Linked DNA regions of Homo sapiens: region 2 is linked to region 1. Evidence: fine-mapped expression QTL. A gene starts in region 1. The other region holds a variant in brackets. All regions are shown on one strand. Distances are between the middles of the regions. Region 1 holds the start of PPFIBP2 (PPFIB scaffold protein 2). Region 2 overlaps PPFIBP2 (PPFIB scaffold protein 2).

What was found. PIP is the estimated chance that this variant, and not a neighbour inherited with it, causes the effect.
Region 2: its variant is fine-mapped to the expression of PPFIBP2 in whole blood (INTERVAL, PIP 0.98).

Annotation. Positions count from the first base shown.
Region 1 is chr11:7,509,272-7,517,604 of GRCh38, reverse strand. PPFIBP2 (PPFIB scaffold protein 2) reads right to left here and starts at 3,606. Exons shown (of 24, transcript NM_003621.5): 1 at 3,484-3,606. OLFML1 (olfactomedin like 1) reads right to left here. Exons shown (of 3, transcript NM_198474.4): 3 at 6,228-8,207. The coding sequence ends at 7,417. It overlaps LOC124902806 (leucine-rich repeat extensin-like protein 5), which reads left to right. Exons shown (of 4, transcript XM_047428005.1): 2 at 3,000-3,487; 3 at 3,565-5,482. The coding sequence ends at 4,395. RefSeq lists enhancers at 976-1,025, 4,711-4,830 and a silencer at 3,511-4,040.
Region 2 is chr11:7,579,155-7,587,487 of GRCh38, reverse strand. All of the region lies in intron 3 of PPFIBP2 (PPFIB scaffold protein 2), which reads right to left. It overlaps LOC105376535 (a long non-coding RNA gene), which reads left to right. Exons shown (of 4, transcript XR_007062579.1): 3 at 6,079-6,228. Among named protein-coding and RNA genes, the nearest start is that of PPFIBP2, 69 kb to the right of the region's middle. The variant T/A (reference allele first, on the strand shown) is at 4,140.

The DNA of each region.
Region 1 (8,333 bases):
TCCTTCACTCACTTTTTCACCCCAAACCTGGTCTCATTCCCAACTCTGCTCCTAGGCAGGGACATCCTTTCAAAACTCCACACTACTCTCCACTTCCACATTCCCCGTAGTACCCAACGCATCAACCCAGACCCCTCCGAGGCTTCTAGCTTTCTTCTGCTCCTCCAACCTCCCACCCTAAAACATGCAACCTTTCCTTACCCCTATCTGTAGTTAACCCCGCTGTTAGGGATATTTCCACACCCTCAGTTGCAAAACACCACACCCCTGTCCACATTACCCTTAAAGACCCCACACTATTGAAGCCAATCTGCTCCTCCCAGGCACCACCTCCCAAAAAGCTGAACTCATCACCCTCACTCGAGCTCTCACTCTAGCAGCCGGACAACAGTTCTCTAATTTAGGAGGATTTAAAACCCTGGTAGGGACAGTAATCTTCATCACTTTTTCTCCCCTGTGTTATCCCACTAATAATAAAAGCCACTAAAACTCTTATTGAAACTACAGTTAGCCACCAGACAATTCAGACTATGCTCCTGCTACAACGACACGATGGATACCAACACATCTCTCAAGAATACCCTAAAAATTAAGTTTTTCTTTTTCCAAGGAGCCCACACCACCCCTAAGTCACGCCTGAAGTAGTTATTGAGAAAGTCACCCCTTTTCCCTTTTTACTATAACCAAATAGACAGGAATGAAAGATTCTCCCCGGGGTCTGAAAGCTTGAAGAGATGAGTAACTCCTCCCTTCTCAGGCCCAGTCCCAAGGTGCAAGGCCAGTTGCGCCAGCAGTGTGCATCAGCAAGACAGCAGAAGCAGGAAGACAGCCGGCCAGAAGACACCTACCCTGGCTGGAAGACACGTACCCCTTGAAGACAGAGAGAGGGGCCGTCTGGGTACTGTGCAGAAGTTACATCAGACTGAGACACTTCTTGTTTACAGGAAACTATAAAACCCCTGCCTCGTCCTCACTTGGTGCTGACGCCATTTTAGGCCTCAGCCCACCTGCACCCAGGCGCTCGTTAAAACAGCACGTTGCCCCACACCGCCTCATGTTGTCTGTTGGCAGGCTCTCGGGGTTCGAACCAATACAAGAACCTTTCATAAACTTTACCTTAAACATTACAGTCTAAAGGCCATACCATTCCTCAGGCCCAAAGCTGAATCTTCCCAGCATTGTTTCTCCCTCCTCACTTCTCATTGCATCTAATCAGTCTAGAGACTGTCCCATTCCCTAGTCCTCTGTCCTACAGATTCTATCTCTCCGAAGTCTCCCTACCTGTCCCCACCTCATCACTCTCTCAGGCCCAAAATAAGGCCTCATCCCTTTGACCCTGGATCAGCCTCCCGGTTTCCTATCCGGCCTCGCCGCCCCCACTGTCTTTTTCCCTTGGAGTTTGCTTCCCACCACACTCCCAGAACTTTGCCATTGCAGCAGTTGCCTTCGGGTTTGTCAACAGAATCACCTGGGGGAACTTGGTAAAAACATCCCAGACTACTTAATCTGAACGTTTTACAAAACTCCCCAGGCGATTATGAGGCATAGCCAGGTTTGCAAACTGCTACTCTAAATCCTTGCTACACATAGGGAAATGATCAGCAAGCTCCTGGGAATCTGTTAGAAACACAGAATGTCAAGTCCCACCCCTGACCTATGGAATCATAATTTGCATTTGAACAAGATCCCCACAGGATTCTCAACTTTGAGAAGCTCTGCTCTACAGTGTTGTCAGACCATGCACTCCACAAATATTTACTGGATTTTCTCTGTATCAGGCTAGGAATTGGGAGGGTCAAGGACCAAGGTCTTTGACTTTGAGAAGTTCACAGAACCATCAGTCAGTCCCCTGCTGTGCCTTCAGACCAAGTCCAGACTTCTGTACTGGACAGCTGGGACTATTTTCCAGCCTTGTCACCAGCTTTCCTGACTAGCACTTGACATAAGAGCCAAGCTGGACCACTGGCCACTTCTCATGGTGAGTCCATGCCTGCCTGCCCACACAGTTGTCACAGCCCAGGCCACACTCTACCCTTCTCTGCCTCAAAAACCCCAGGAGGGATCCTTTGAGGTCCATCACATCACCCTTTCTTAAAATTATCCCAGATTTCCCTGCTCAGATGAAAGACAGGAATTCCCATAACTTTGTTCCTACCGCCTTCATGTCATTGATCTCATTCCACTTACTCTTTTAAAGTCAAAGCGCATCTCCCTTAGCTACCCAGTAAAGAAGGCATCATGGTAAGCAGCTTATCTCTCCAGTAGCAATAAGCTAACAACTGTCACATCACCAAATCTTAAAATAGTATTACTAATAATTGAAATATGTTAAATAAAACATGGATAAATGCAATCAGTGAAAACCTCATCAATCATCCCCATCTCCCACTTCAAATTTATTTAGCTATGAATTTAAGCAAAGTACAAATGGGTTGCCTCTCTTAAGCCAAAGAGAAATAATTTCTAAATTAGATAACACTTACAGCTTTCCATACACCTATAATAATGAAAGACTGAATATGCTGAAGATGAATTATGTCGAAAACCAACTACTTTTCTGTAGTTGACCATTTAACTTCACATAATACACTACAAATTTGAAAACACTTCAGATTTGTATTACAATCAATTAAGGAGGGGTTGAGAAAGGAGAGAGACGAAGAGAAAGACAGGAAGTAGACCAAAATATAGAAAAGGGACACGGATCTATACCAAATATCTGGCTGCTCTAAAAGTAAAAATATAATTAGATTCGTTTTTTAAGAAGATTAAACACTGGCAAGAATGCCTGTCTTAATCCTATCCAAACGCTGGAAGTTCTGTTCTCTTGTTACATAATCTTATTTTCATCCGAGGAAAAACTGCGGGTCTGGAATCTGATGTGATGAGGTGAGGAGGGAGCCCACTTTTAAATAGGACCGTCCCCATCCTGCAGTCTACTGGGACGCGGCGGCTTTAGATTTTAAAAAGTGTGCTGTATTTTTGCACTTACACTACAGAACTGGCTTTAGCCGAGGCCCTGCATCTAGACACACGCTGTGTCCACCAGAGAATTGCCTGGGCTGACAGACCTAAAGCTTCCGCAACCTCCTTAGGCTCCCTAGTCCACGCCGCTGCTCCCCGGGCTGAGCAGGGCTGGGACGCGCCGCACAGAACTCAGGGACCCCACCTCCCTGCGCATCTCCAGGGCCACGCTGGCACCTGCAGGAGTGCGGACTGTCCGCGGATCCCAGGCAGGGTTGGGTGGAGATTCGCAGCCAACCCACAGGAGTTCTGCCCTCCTCCCAGGCTTCTGGCCAGTGGAGTTGGAGAAGGGTCCCCGTCCTCGAGCCTGGGACACGCTCCGGGGCTCACAGAGACACTGACCCACACGTCCCCGTGGTTCGTAGCTCTGGGGGCGCTCCACTCCCTAGGTAATGCTCCCGACGGGGATCCCAACCCCGACCGCGCGGCAAGCCCGGGGTGTGGGGAGAGCCCACTGACCTGGGTACGGGGCCGAGGCTCCTCTCCGGGCGGCTCAGGTGTGCGGGCCGCTCCCGTGTCCCTCCCACCTTCAAACATGAGAGCCCAGAAGCGAGCGACGGGCCACTGGCCCACCGACCAACTGCCGGACCAAGCGCCCGACCAACCAGCGGACCGACCGCAGCGGCCGGGGCCGGCGCCCACGTGACGGGGCGGGGACCTGCGGAAGGCTCTTCCCGGAGCGCCGCGCCCCCACCCCGGGACCTGCCACAGGGACCACCCCCTTGGGCACCCGCTCCCTCTCGGGCACCGAAGAAGCCTGCTGGGACCCGTCCACCAGGGTTCCTGTTCCCGGGGGACCGGCCTGGTCAGCCCCGCCCCTTCGAACCTGCCTCGTCCCCACCCCCTGGGCCGCGCGTCCGGGCCCCAGCCCCGCCTCTCTCGGCGGACCGCGCCCCCTTCCGGGAGCCCCGCCCCGTTCGCCGCGCCTCCTCCTCCGCACAGCTCCGGTTGCGGGGAGGCCCGGGTGGGTACCCGGCGCTCCGGCTCCCAGTCTCCTGGGCTTCTCCAGTCCTTCAGCGCCGTTCTCCGGTCACAGGGAATGAAAGCGAGGAAGAAGGAAACGGTGTCGAGAATTGCGAAGAGAGAAAGCATAGAAAACCCACATTAGAGGCACTCCCAGAGCAGAAACCCTTCGGAGCATCCCGACTTCCTCGGCCCGCGTGCAATCCAGGCAAAATTGAGGTTGTCTCTGAGCCGCCCTCCCTAAGCAGGTCGGAAAGCCCCCGAATCATCCCAGGTCCCGCCGCGCTGCACTCGCAACCTGGGGTGGAGGTCCCTCTAGTGGTTGGCACCAAACAAAAGTTCTGTCTTATGAAGAGCCGAGGTCAGGAAGCATTTCCCTGTGCCCAGCGCCAAGGTCTGGGACCTTAGGTCCAAGAAAAGCGTTGGCAATGTCTGACCACAGGAATGGGTTCTCGAACTGGGGAGGACTGAAGCTGGAGATCTGGTCCAGCCCCTACCTCCAGCGTGTGGCCTGAACCCGTTTTGGTTGTACTGCTATGTTGTGGCCCTGCCCAGGCCTCCAAGGACTGGCTGCTGTTAAGCTGTTTAAAATCCCTGTAGGCCTCAGATGGCAGCGACACCAGGGACTCGGCATAGTCCCCAGCTCTGGCAGGAGTCACCACAGCCCTAGCCTTTAGTTCTCTACAGGCTGGAGTGTCGACAAACTCCACAGGACACAACTTTTTCAAACCAAATTTACCCTCGCGGTCTGAAATGACCAGTAGGCCCAGGAGAATTTTACATGTGAACAGAACCTAACCCACCCTGGCAAATATGAGACGTGTGGTCACTGCGGGAACCTGGCCAGCAGCAGACCAAAGCACAGCCAGCAGGGGAAGGCTGGGGCCCGCAAGAGTTGTGTTACAACAGGACACCCTTCAGTTCTCTTTCACTTCCTTAAAATAGCAGCAGAGCGACTTTTGTAGACGCAGGCTGCCACAGTTCACACAAGGTCATGGCTGTTTCCGAATCCCACCCTTTATTGCCCTAGCGGAGCCACTCCCCTTACCTCCGCCCCCAGAAACTGCTAGCCTGTTCTTAAATTGATACAGTTACCTTTTTAAATGTTCTAAGTCACCGGCTCTGGAGCTTCTTTGCACTTTGGAACCAACTTGCGGGAAGGAACTTTAAAAATACTGATATCTCGATCCATCCCCAGAGGTTCTGATTTAATGGTCTTGGGGATATGGCCACGGCATGAGGACTGTTAAAACTCCGCAGGTGATTCTTATGTGCAACAAAGTTTAAGAACCACTGATGTAGGCCATGTCGATGTCAGTCTTCACTTAAATCCAACAAGACCCCAGAGCTAAAACGTTCACCTGAAAGAAACCCCATTCCCAGGCCTGCATACTGACCTGCGCTGGCTCACAAGAAGCAAAGTGGTCCCTTAACAGGGGCTTCCTGGAGAAAATGTCTTGACCTAAAAGAGTGATTCGAGCTGCAGGGATTTAAGGTAGGTACCAAGGTGAGTTGTTTGGGGCAGATGTGCCCTGCAGAGCTGTCAATCAAATCATATCCCAGGTGGAATCTAGACAGCACATTTCAGGCAACCTCCCCTCTGTGCCTCCAAAGGAACTATGGTTGCAGGACTCACTCCTATTGATAAATCTACCCCACTATCCTCTGTGAGGCAGCCCACATTCCTTCTATCTGTGAAATAGGTAGGTAATAGGGCAGGTAATATCACATTTATTTATTCATACCTGTCTCATTCCACAAAGGATTTGGCCTCTCTGTACCATTCTGTTAGAACTGTGGGTAATTACACTGTATCCATGGGTTGAGTAATTCCCTTCTGCCAAATATCTACTCAAATGCTATGGAAAAAAACATTTTCTCTTCACTGCCTATGGTCCCAGCCTGGGCTTGGCAAAGACAGGAAAACAGCTGCAAGCACACAAAGCAAACCTTCTCATGTGACCAACCTGGAAAGACAGAGGCTTCAGCACGTGACACAGACTGGCACCACAGCCTGCACTTGTGACTCGAACTTAGCTGAATTGGACAAACACGTGGGAAACACTGAGGAAGCCCCTGTCAAGAGGCATGCTGCCCTCGGTGCCACAGGGCATGCCTGCTGTGGCAGAGTCGCTTGCCTGCTGTATGGCTTCTGTCCAGATTCCAGAATATTTACCAGGGCCTCAGTGTGTTGGGAATCATTCACAGTAAACCTAACACAAGCAGCACTCCCAGAAAGCTTTTGTGCTTAGGGTATGTGGGCAAATATAACCTGATGAGGTTATTTGCTCAGTGTCACTTTTATTGAATTTAAAGCAGAAAGAGAGAAACAGAGGACAGCAAGACAAGAGGAGGCTAGAGTTGGGGTCCTCACCCTTAGACTGGTTTTCTGGAGGAATTATCATTTGAAAGGCCTATTGAAAGGTCTTGTGCAGACATGAAAACTGGCTAAAGGGACAGACTATTATTTTTAGGCTGAAACGATGAACGCATTGACTATAAGAGTAGGTGAACAAACATACGTATTTGATGCTTCCTTGGGCAATGGAAAAACTATGGGATTTGTAGTATTTTCTAGCTGTATCTTTCACTTTGTAATTGTGTTACTCACCTAAACTCTAGAATGACAGCTGTAAAGACTTGTGCATGTTTCACAAAGGTGAAACGAGAATTAAATGATGTGCAAACACTCCACACCTGGAAAGCGATATTCAAATGTTAATATTTTCACTTTATTATTACATCTACCAAGCTTAGTGGAAGGACAGGGCTAGGGGAAATAGAGGTTAAACCTCAATAAGAAATAGTATTTTAAGCCAGGTGTGGTGGCACATGCCTGTAATCCCAGGTACTTAGGAGGCTGAGGCAGGAGGATCTCTTGAGCTCTGGAGTTTGAGACCAGCCTGGGCAACATAGTGAGACCTTGTCTCAAAAAAAAGAAAAGAAAAGAAAGAAATATTAATAGTATTTTAGTTGGGCAGTGAAAATGGGAGAATATCAATAGACATTTGAAAAAGAGGGAAGAGCTTCAGCAAAGGCCAGGGGAGAGAAAAGCCAGTGGTGAATATTAGGGGCTGGCATACAACTCTAATTGTGGGAGGGAAGATGGCAGAGTTACAGTAAATGCTGGGGAGCAGTAAAACAAAAGGCTTGAAGTAGGCTGTATCAGAATGTGGTCATCCTTGAGAGCCAGGAGGTTTGGGGGAGTAATGGACATTGTTGAAACTTTCCTGATGATATGCTCTCATCTAAGCTCTTGGAAGATACCTAAGGCAGTGACATTTGGGAAAGGAGGCATACGTATTTCCACTTCTACACACTCTTCCTGTGTGTGATTAGAGGGATACTATATTGTGAAGGGGCTATAGCCTCACTGTCCTGTAGAACAGCTGCCAAAGCCACAGTGCTCTTTCTCACAGCTGTAATGCATTACTTCAGAGGCAGCTTTCTCTTTGTCTGGAGTTTGTAAATGATCTGGTTTCCTTCATTCCAGGCATAGAGCTGCTTATCTCTGGGGTTGTAATGGATCATGGAGTGACTTCTTGGTCTCTTGGGGAAGAACAAGTTGGGCAAGTCCTCCTCACTGATAGTGCCCAGTGGATCATAGATGCAGGTGATGCGATGAGGGCCCTGGCCCCCAGTACTGTAGACCACATAGAGAACCCCACACAAGAGGAATGAGGCTTCAGCATCCTGGCTTCTGCATGGGGTATCCCATGAATGCTCCACTCCCAGTGTGCCCGGCTCAATCTTTGTGAGAACCAAATGGCTATGGGTGCCTGGCCCAGAGTGGATGGCCCAGAGCCCATGCTCATCCACAGCCAGGTCAATGTAAGTTGAGGGGGAGTGCTGGTAAACCAATGCTCGGCCTACCCCTCCTGGGAGCAGCATTCGATCTTCCACAGTCCTCTTCTGCAGGTTATATTTGATTATCTCATTAGAAGTTGCTTGGTTATGAAAAAATAGAAAACCTTTGTAGATCACTTGGCCTGTTCCCTGCCAGGAAAGTGTTAGGATTTGCTTCCGGGGAGCTGGCTTGGTGTTATCCTCCATGAATGCCCGTATGTTTGCAAATTCCCAAACAGTGTTGTTTCTGGATCCAATTAATAAGTACACCTTTGGAGAGTTATAGACAGCATCTTTCATCCAAGAGCCATGTGTGTCCATCATCTTCTTCACTATTTTCAAAGACTTTATGCCCATCAGCATGTTGTCACAGCCTGGCCAAACAGGAGAAAAAGGAGAGATTACTTTATAAACATGAGCTGTCTGCTTTCTGGAAGGCTCCCCATGCTTGGTAAATCTTGTTTCCTTTCAGGTCTAATACTGATGGGGAATATTTTCAG
Region 2 (8,333 bases), 70 kb before region 1:
AAGTTCTGGTTAATACATTTGTCTCAAAAGGTGATCAACTGACTAAAATTTACTCCTTTGGAAACAGACTTGTAGGAAAGAATTCCTGCTATTTGGATATAGTTCTGAATTGCAAAGGAATTCTGCCACTATTGCTTGATTTGCTTAAAGTGGCAATTTTTAAGACAGGGCTGTCAGTCCTAAGCCAACTATAGTTCAAACCAGGATTATCATCAGGGGCTAATTGAGATCTACTTTGTGGCACAGGGAGTGTCTGTGTGGGATGTACTAGGATAAAAAGGGCACTCAGTGTCCTTTGTGTGTGGAATAGATGGCTTTCTATCCACCACCTGTTTGCTTCCATTCTTATTTCCCATGTAGAGCAAAAAGGTTAAGACAGGGAATGAATACAAGATGCAACAGGCCCATGGGCATCAACCGGGGTTGGTGGAGGTGGGGAGCAGGATGTGTGATATGAAAAAGTAAGTTCAAACAAAACAAGAAATAAACAGGAGCTAAAGTCTAAAAGATATTATCAGAAAATGAATCAGAAAATGAATAAATGAAGGGTAAATAACAGAAATAGATCTAACAACTGTTTAAGAAGTTATGTCGAAAGAATTACATGTCAGACACAGCTGTACAAATGCCAGGTCTGGGCGCTGGGAGGCTGAGAGCTCTGGGTTCCCTGTTCCCCTCATTTGGCCCAGCTGAACTTCAAGTCAGGGGATCCCTGGGGACTTTCTTGTGGTGCTTCCATATTCATTTACAGAATTCCTATTGCATCCTCCTCCCCAAGGGACCACCTTCTCTGCAGAAAGAGGACAAACCAAGAATAATTAGGAGGCTGGGGCTGCACCTAACCATGTGTAATCTCAAGTAGGTTACCTCATCTCAGGCTTTCCATCCTTTCAATAGAAAAAATCATGCTTCACGGAGCAACAGAAAGGGTCAAGTTAGGTCAGCATACCTGAAAACGTGTGGCACTAAAACTACAGAGTGCTCTTTATAGTAGGGTGCTCTAAAAATTCCTGTGTGATATAAACAGTTTTTGAATAATCATAGGAATATGGAAATGATTTTTAAATTATAATTTAACAAATGAATTTAGCTAACTTATAAATGATTTAGCTTTGTTTAATCTAAAAGACCAACATTCAGTTAGAAGCATGAGTTAGAAGGCATCATTTAATGCCTTCTACAAAAAGTTTTAATTAATTCACTCTTTTTGTGTAAGAGAACAACAGGGGCAATATTTCTGATCAGGATGCCTAAGAAATATCTATGAAGATCTGTACAAACAACCCAAGGGAACAATAACCAAAATACTTTCAGGCTTGAAATGAAAAAACAAAACAAAAAGAAAGCCTCTGTGACAGTGACAACGCAGAACCCACCATTAGCTAATAGCCCTGGGATCATGTCTTTGGGCCACATTGCCAAAGATGAGTTCACTTCTCCACTATCCCTGAACAAGTGCTCACATTTTTGAGTCATACATTCATGGCCACATATTTTTCTTTCGTACAAGTGTTTTATTGTGTACTCTAAGTATTATGTGCTACATACATGTTTATAATGAGTACACTGGGAATTTTTATAGCTAGTAATAACCAATCATAAACACTTGGGTTTTTATTTCTGTTCCAATCTAGAGGTTAGTTCAAATTTGGGTTAAACATGAACTTTTCAGCCAAGTTAACCCCCAGCGGCCTCCTCAAAGACATCACCCTCTGACTGCAGTGGCTGTTCAGATCTATGACAATGCTCTCTCCTGGCCTAGCCCTTCCACTGTAGCTTGGCCAAGGGATAGCCATGTTAGTCTCTCCTTGGAGCTCTAGACAGGGTGAGTGCTTGATGCCATGGCTGGGGTCCTGCAGATTTGTGGTGGGCAGCATGACTGCTTTATGGCCTGGCTGGCCATTTGCAAGGAGAACACACTCTTCACATGTGCTCTGGTACACCTCAGGGATGCTGGATGAGGGCAGTTCTGTAGCACTCCCCAACTGGCATGACCCAGGAGACTTCCTGCTGGCACTGTACTTCATTGAACTAGGGGAAGGAGTTGGTTCCAGAGTAGTCAAATGGGGCAAGGGCTAGATCACAACAGGGGTGTCATTGGTATACAAGTAAGGAGTGTGGGAAAACCTAAAACAGTCGGCTCCCCAGTGTGACAGCTCTAGCATCATGTTGGTTTTTGAAGCCAACAGTTGCTTCTCAGAGCTCTTGCCTTGGGATCCTCAAAATGCATCTGCCTTCCTTTTTTTGATATCAATAGTTGTCATCTTGGCCAGGTAAAGAGTTACATTTCCTTCAGTGCTTCTAATAAGCTATAAATTCCAGTGCCTTCAGGATCTTGGCCACAGTACATACACTGTCCCAACTGGTCAGAGCATGTTAAATTATATGATGGCTCTTTGCCTGTAAATACGCTGAGATTTTGAACACAGCACGTTGGGTAAGCCTTGTCCTGGATAAGCCTTAAAATGGTTCTTCCTTATTTAGCCATTTAGATGACATGTATTTTTAGCTGAATAAGAAAACAAAAGAAAATGTGTAGTGTTTCCAGGCTGCCTAGTCAAGAGGATCTTATCAAAATCCAGAAAACTAGTTACAAGTGAACCATAGCTGCCAGGCACAGGGCATCAGGGGAGATATCAAAGTTACTAAGGCTATATCTTAAGCTCAGAAGCACCACTCACATGCAACCCCTTTTAGAAACTTAGAAGACATAAACCTTAAAAGTAAGGGGACCAAAATAAATAAATAAACAAAAATGATTGGATCACAAAAGCTACAGTCAATTCCTGTTACAGGACTCTGGTTACCCAACACCAAGGGAACCCAGTAGTATGAGTGTAGGCAGGTTCTTATAAAAAAGAAAACTTCCCCTAGATTTTTTTATTAAGGAGTTTTAGGGCTTTCTGGCATTTATTATAAACCTGAGTATTCCCAGGACCAGTTCTGCTTTTTCTAGGTGAAGAACGGTCAAGCCAATCTACCATCTTTGTCACAGTGTTAAAGAAATTTCTTCCAAATGCAATGTGAATAGAGTGCAGTCAGATCCTCGGCTACCAGGAGTCCAACAAGAGAAAGCCTATCCTGACCTTGACCCTTATTCCCTCCTCCCCTCAATTATATATAAGGGGAGGTTAAGTATTGCTGATGAGGCTATCATCCAATGATCTAAATGTCCTCTTTTAAGGAAGAACAAAGCAGAGTTCATAAACAGCAAATAAATAGCTTCTTGGTTGACCAATGTTCACATCATCACACGTCATGAATGTATTTATGAAATGACTTGAATAATCCTGAGCACCCACTAGGTGCCACTTTCTGTGCTAAACAATGATTTAGTCCCTGCCCTTAAAAAGCTCTGTAGTATTACAGGGAATAAGGACAGAAGGAAAAAAGAAATCAACCTTTGCAGCAGGATGTAATAAGTACTATCATAAAGAGTTGTATGCACATGAATGGCAGGGGCATAGAGGAGAGACAAAAACATTTCACCTTCAAAAGAGAGAAGAGGCTTTACAGTGGAGGCACCATTTGAATGATTGAGTCTGAAGGCTTTAAAGGAATACCCCTAGGAGAATGTGAGAACAGCAGCTTTGGAAATAGCCTTCCCAATACAGACATGCTACCCATGAAGCTATGACAATCACTACCCTTCAGATATTCTGGTCTTCCAGAACTAACATAGCAAACACAGGACACCCTGAAGATAAACTGGCCATCAGCTCTCCAACCAAGGGGCTGGGATGAAGCTCCTAACTGATCTTCCTGGGGAGCTAGATTTGTAGAGAAACACATTTACCAAGATTTTTTTTTTCCCCAAAATTATAACCTTGGCTGAGCTTGGTCACTGCTAAATTCTCTTTATCTGGTAGCTGGACACATAAAAAGCTTACAGCACTGGGCTGCAGAAATAGCATTTGTATGTGTGCTGGTATCCTGTAATGAGAGGATGTGAAAGCCAGGAGGAGAGTAAAAAGAGAAGACTCTTTGAAGACTGTCCTCACCTTGCCAACTCCAATAGATGCACTGAGTCATTATTACTGAAAACACCTTCAGAGACAGTGCAGCAGGACTGGGTGCTACAGTTAGGGTGGAGTGGGCGCTGTGACTGTCTTAGCTCCCCTGGAGGCTTTAGAGCCTGG[T/A]GTCTCTTCGGCATGAAAGATCCAAAGTTTGAGAACACAGAATTAGGCAAGAGCCAAAGTAAGGAGCTGCTCCTCGGGTCACAAGAATGCCATTAATCCTACAAGATTTCCAAATGGAAATGAATACAAAGGAAAATGTATGGGGAAGATTGCCTGGGAACTAGAGGCAGCAAAAATAACATTACAGAAGGAATTTAAAAGATGACTATAGGAACAAAGTTAGTGCTCACTGGCTTCAGGAGTGACCAGGAGGGAGTAGAGATGAACGAGCAGGCTAACAACTCACCAAGAATCTTAACAGTGAAAGGAAGGTAAGTTATAAGGCAGCATGAAGAGACAAGCACAGGGTCAAAGATAGTTTTGATTTGTTTTTTCCCTGAGAATTGAGGAGAAGCATTTTCCACCAAGGGCAAGGGACAGATAGGCAGGGAGGAGCTGAGAGAAGAAACAATCAGAGCAACAAGAGGAGCTGGAACAGGATTGGGTCAAGGACAGGATACTGGGATAGCCTTGGCTGAGAGAAGGGACTCCTGGCCCATGAAACAGGATGCTGAAATACAGTTACATTTTGCGGTGAAAGGGAGGGAGGGTGAAGAGACTCATCTCAGTTTGGCTGGTTTTTTTTTTTTTTTCCTATGACATTGGTAGTGACATCAGTTGAAAGGGGAGTATAAGGTTGAAGACTAATGGAAAAGTGTGAAAGAGCTGCTATGGAGGAAGGGACAGAGAAAAGCAGGGATGAGTCAAAGGATCCCTAAGTGCTGCTGCCAGTCCACAAAACCAACAATGGCTGTGCTGCTCTGTAGTGCCCACAAGTTGTTCAGCAAATGACCCTGGTGTGATGCCAGTTTGTTAAATCCCACTGGGTAAAAGAGGCCTCTCTTCAAGGAGCTGGCAGGAGTTACAGGTGCTGGATGTCAGAGATGGCAGAATTCTAGCTTCTAAATTATACCAGGAAACATAATGTACAGGCATCTCGGGTGTGTTGGCCAGAAATAGGAGGTATCATAGGAAATTGAGGAAGCTAGTGCCCTTGGGTGACCATATCCACTGTTGCCTTTCCCATAGGATTGAAAAACCTCTCTTTTCAGAATCAAGGTTGGGTACCTGGCTCCCGAGTAACCAGAGGTTGTCAGTTCTGATCGATGTCATCCTCCCCATAACTCTAACACTTATAAAGTGCTTCCTAAGCACTTAACATACATTGAATTGGCTGGGCACGGTGGCTCACGCCTGTAATCCCAGCACTTTGGGAGGCTGAGGCGGGCGCATCATCTGAGATCAGGAGTTCGAGACCAGACTGGCTAACATGGCAAAACCCCATCTCTACTAAAAATACAAAAAATTAGCTGGGCATGGCGGTGTATGCCTGTAATCCCAGCTACTCGGGAGGCTGAGGCAGGAGAATCGCTTGAAGCTAGGAGAAGGAGGTTGAAGTGAGCCAAGATTGTGCCACTGCACTCCAGCCTGGGTGACAGACCTAGACTCTGTCTCAAAAAAAAAAAAATCTATCTATCTATCTATCTATAGAATTGTTTATCCATATATATAATCAAGGAAATTGAATTCTAGGAAGGTTAAATAAATTGCCCAAGTCTACACAGAGGTGAGATATGAGCCCAAGGAATCTAGATCCAGGATCCATGCTCTTAACTAGTAGGAACAGCCTTCACAGAAGCTGCTGCCTATTTCTGTAACTTTCACTGCAGTCCAACATGAATGCAAGGCAAGTCAGTGTCTGGAGTGAGGAGACCTCCGTGTCTGCCTTTGCAGCTCTTCTGGCCCAAGTGGCCAGGCTACTAGATCAACCATTTGAGCACCAGATGACACAGAATAAAGTCTCACATTAGCAGCTTGAGTTAATTCCACTTTTTACTGCAGAACCTGAGCCAACTGCATGGGGGACCTGTAGTGATTCCATTTTCTTTGTGACCTACAGTTGGAATTTGCTTAAGCACTGAGAGTGCTGGAAGCCAGGAAGCAGTGTGAAGATGCTGACAGTCTGGGATTTCTGTTCCTGGGAAAATGAACTCTTGCCGAAAGAGCAGTGGGTGGGTCCCACAGACCCTGCTCGGAGCTATTTTTAGAGGTGTGTTCATGGTTGTGTGGGTTGGATCCACTGGACTCAATGTAGAACAGGTGTGAGCTGTTTGTGACTGAGTCCCTCTGGATACTTGTGGCAAGAGACTACCTTATCCCTAGGCTTTGTCTGTTAGGAGAATGAACTAGAGCATCAGCCCTGATCAGCCTTCACTCAGCAACCACAGCCAAGCTGGCCAGATCCAGCAGCCAATGAGGCCTCTGGTCACCTATGGTGGCCCAGGTTGCAGCTGCCTTTTCTAGGTCTTCAATATGCTTGGTTTGAGACCTTGATCTGGAGTATGGGAAGGGTCATAAAGCTGAAGCACTGAATGGCCTGAGAGGCAATTCTAGGAGAGAACCTGGTTCCATCTGTTCCTCTTTCAACTTCTCCCTTCCTGATAATCACCAATAGCAGTTAATAGCAAGCATGTTATTGAGTATTTCCTACATGCATGATACTGCACTAATCGTACTATCTTACTGAGTCCTCATAAAGCCTGTATGTGGTAGGTACTATTATCTCCCTTATTTTATAGTTAAAGAAATCCAGACTTTTGAGATAATTTACCTTGGATCACACAGCTGGTAAACGTGGCAATGCCAGGATTCTAATTCAGGCCTCACTCCAGACTCCATGTTCTTAACTGTAATATTAATAGTATATACTATCCCATCCCACACAGGCCCTGGAGCAAGATTTCTTTTCTGAGCAAATATTTCCCCTCCAGCTCCATGCCTCTCTGAACATAAGTATCTCCCCTTTGCCCTGAGACACCACCACCTTGGACTGCTCAAAGGGCAAGGGCTCCTGCTCTGGCACCAGGAACCTCTTCTTCCAGAATCTATGCCCTCTGTAAAGGAGAATGAAGACGATAGTGTTTCTACCTTCAAAAGCATGAGTTCAGAGAAACCAGCTCTCCACACCACCTCAGCTGAAGCACAGGAGAAAGGGTGGGTGAGCCATGCAGATGGGAAGTGCTGCAGACCTGGGCTACAGGAGGTGGGGAGGGAGGGCCAGCAGAGGTTTCCTGGGAAAAGACAGCCTGGATGGAGTCAGTTGAAGTGGATGAGAGTTAGAGAGGAGGTGGTCATCTGTGGTAAAAGCTCAGAAAAGGGAAGAAATACACTTGGGAGCTCATCAGGGTAGATATAAAAGATAAAACTAAAAAGGTAAGTTGAGGTTGGGCTGCTAATGGTCTCAAAGGCCAAGCAAGCCGAAGGGCCTGATTTTTCTTCCAGATTAAGGGTGAGTCCAGGGGGGCTCATCACTGGGGTCACAGGACGAAAGGGAATTTGTTTTTTTTGTTTTTTTTTTTAAGAAGATTTTAAAAATCTGGCAGTAGTGTTTAGGGTAGAGAATAGTGAAAATACTCTTATCACACTGCCAATGACATGTCTACACTTTGAGTTTTGCTTTTGTAAAATGCTCTTTAAAATTCTAAAAGTAGAAGAAAAATATCTGTTTTGCTATGAGTCATCCTGGGGGTTTCTAAAGTCTCCTTGCTTAAAGTTTCCCTAAGCAAACTTCCAACTGTCCACAGGAGCCAGCATACCCTGGGTCTTGGGACAAGAAGGGCCTTCTTACATTGCATCACATGCAAAATTAGTTCCTCCACACACATAACTTCTCCTGTAGCAGGCAGAGTTACAGTATCTGCCCCAGGGGCTGGGACAAGGCTCTGACAATCCCAGGCACATGTTGGCTGAAAGGATTTCTTGATTAAAAGCTTCATTTGGGATACAGGGAAAGAAGGACCAAGTGATGGTCAGTGCATTTCTTACATATTTCCTTTCAGTATCTCCCCAGTGGGGCTTAAAAAAAAAACCTAAGATGATGCAAACCTTTGCCAAAACGTCTGGTCATCTCAGCATGCTTTCTGGTGACTGTGATGCCCTAGGGGCTGGGCACAGACAGGATTTCTGCTGGGTTCTAAAGCAATAATTTTATACATATTTGGCAGAGAAAATGAATAAAGAGAACTAGACTGGGAGATAGAGAACAGGGTTCAAGACCAGGCTGCACCACTAATAGCTATGACACTAATACCATGAGGTTCTTAGCCCCTCTTGGGCTTTGTTAAATGAGGGGTTTGTACTATCCCATCCCTCCAA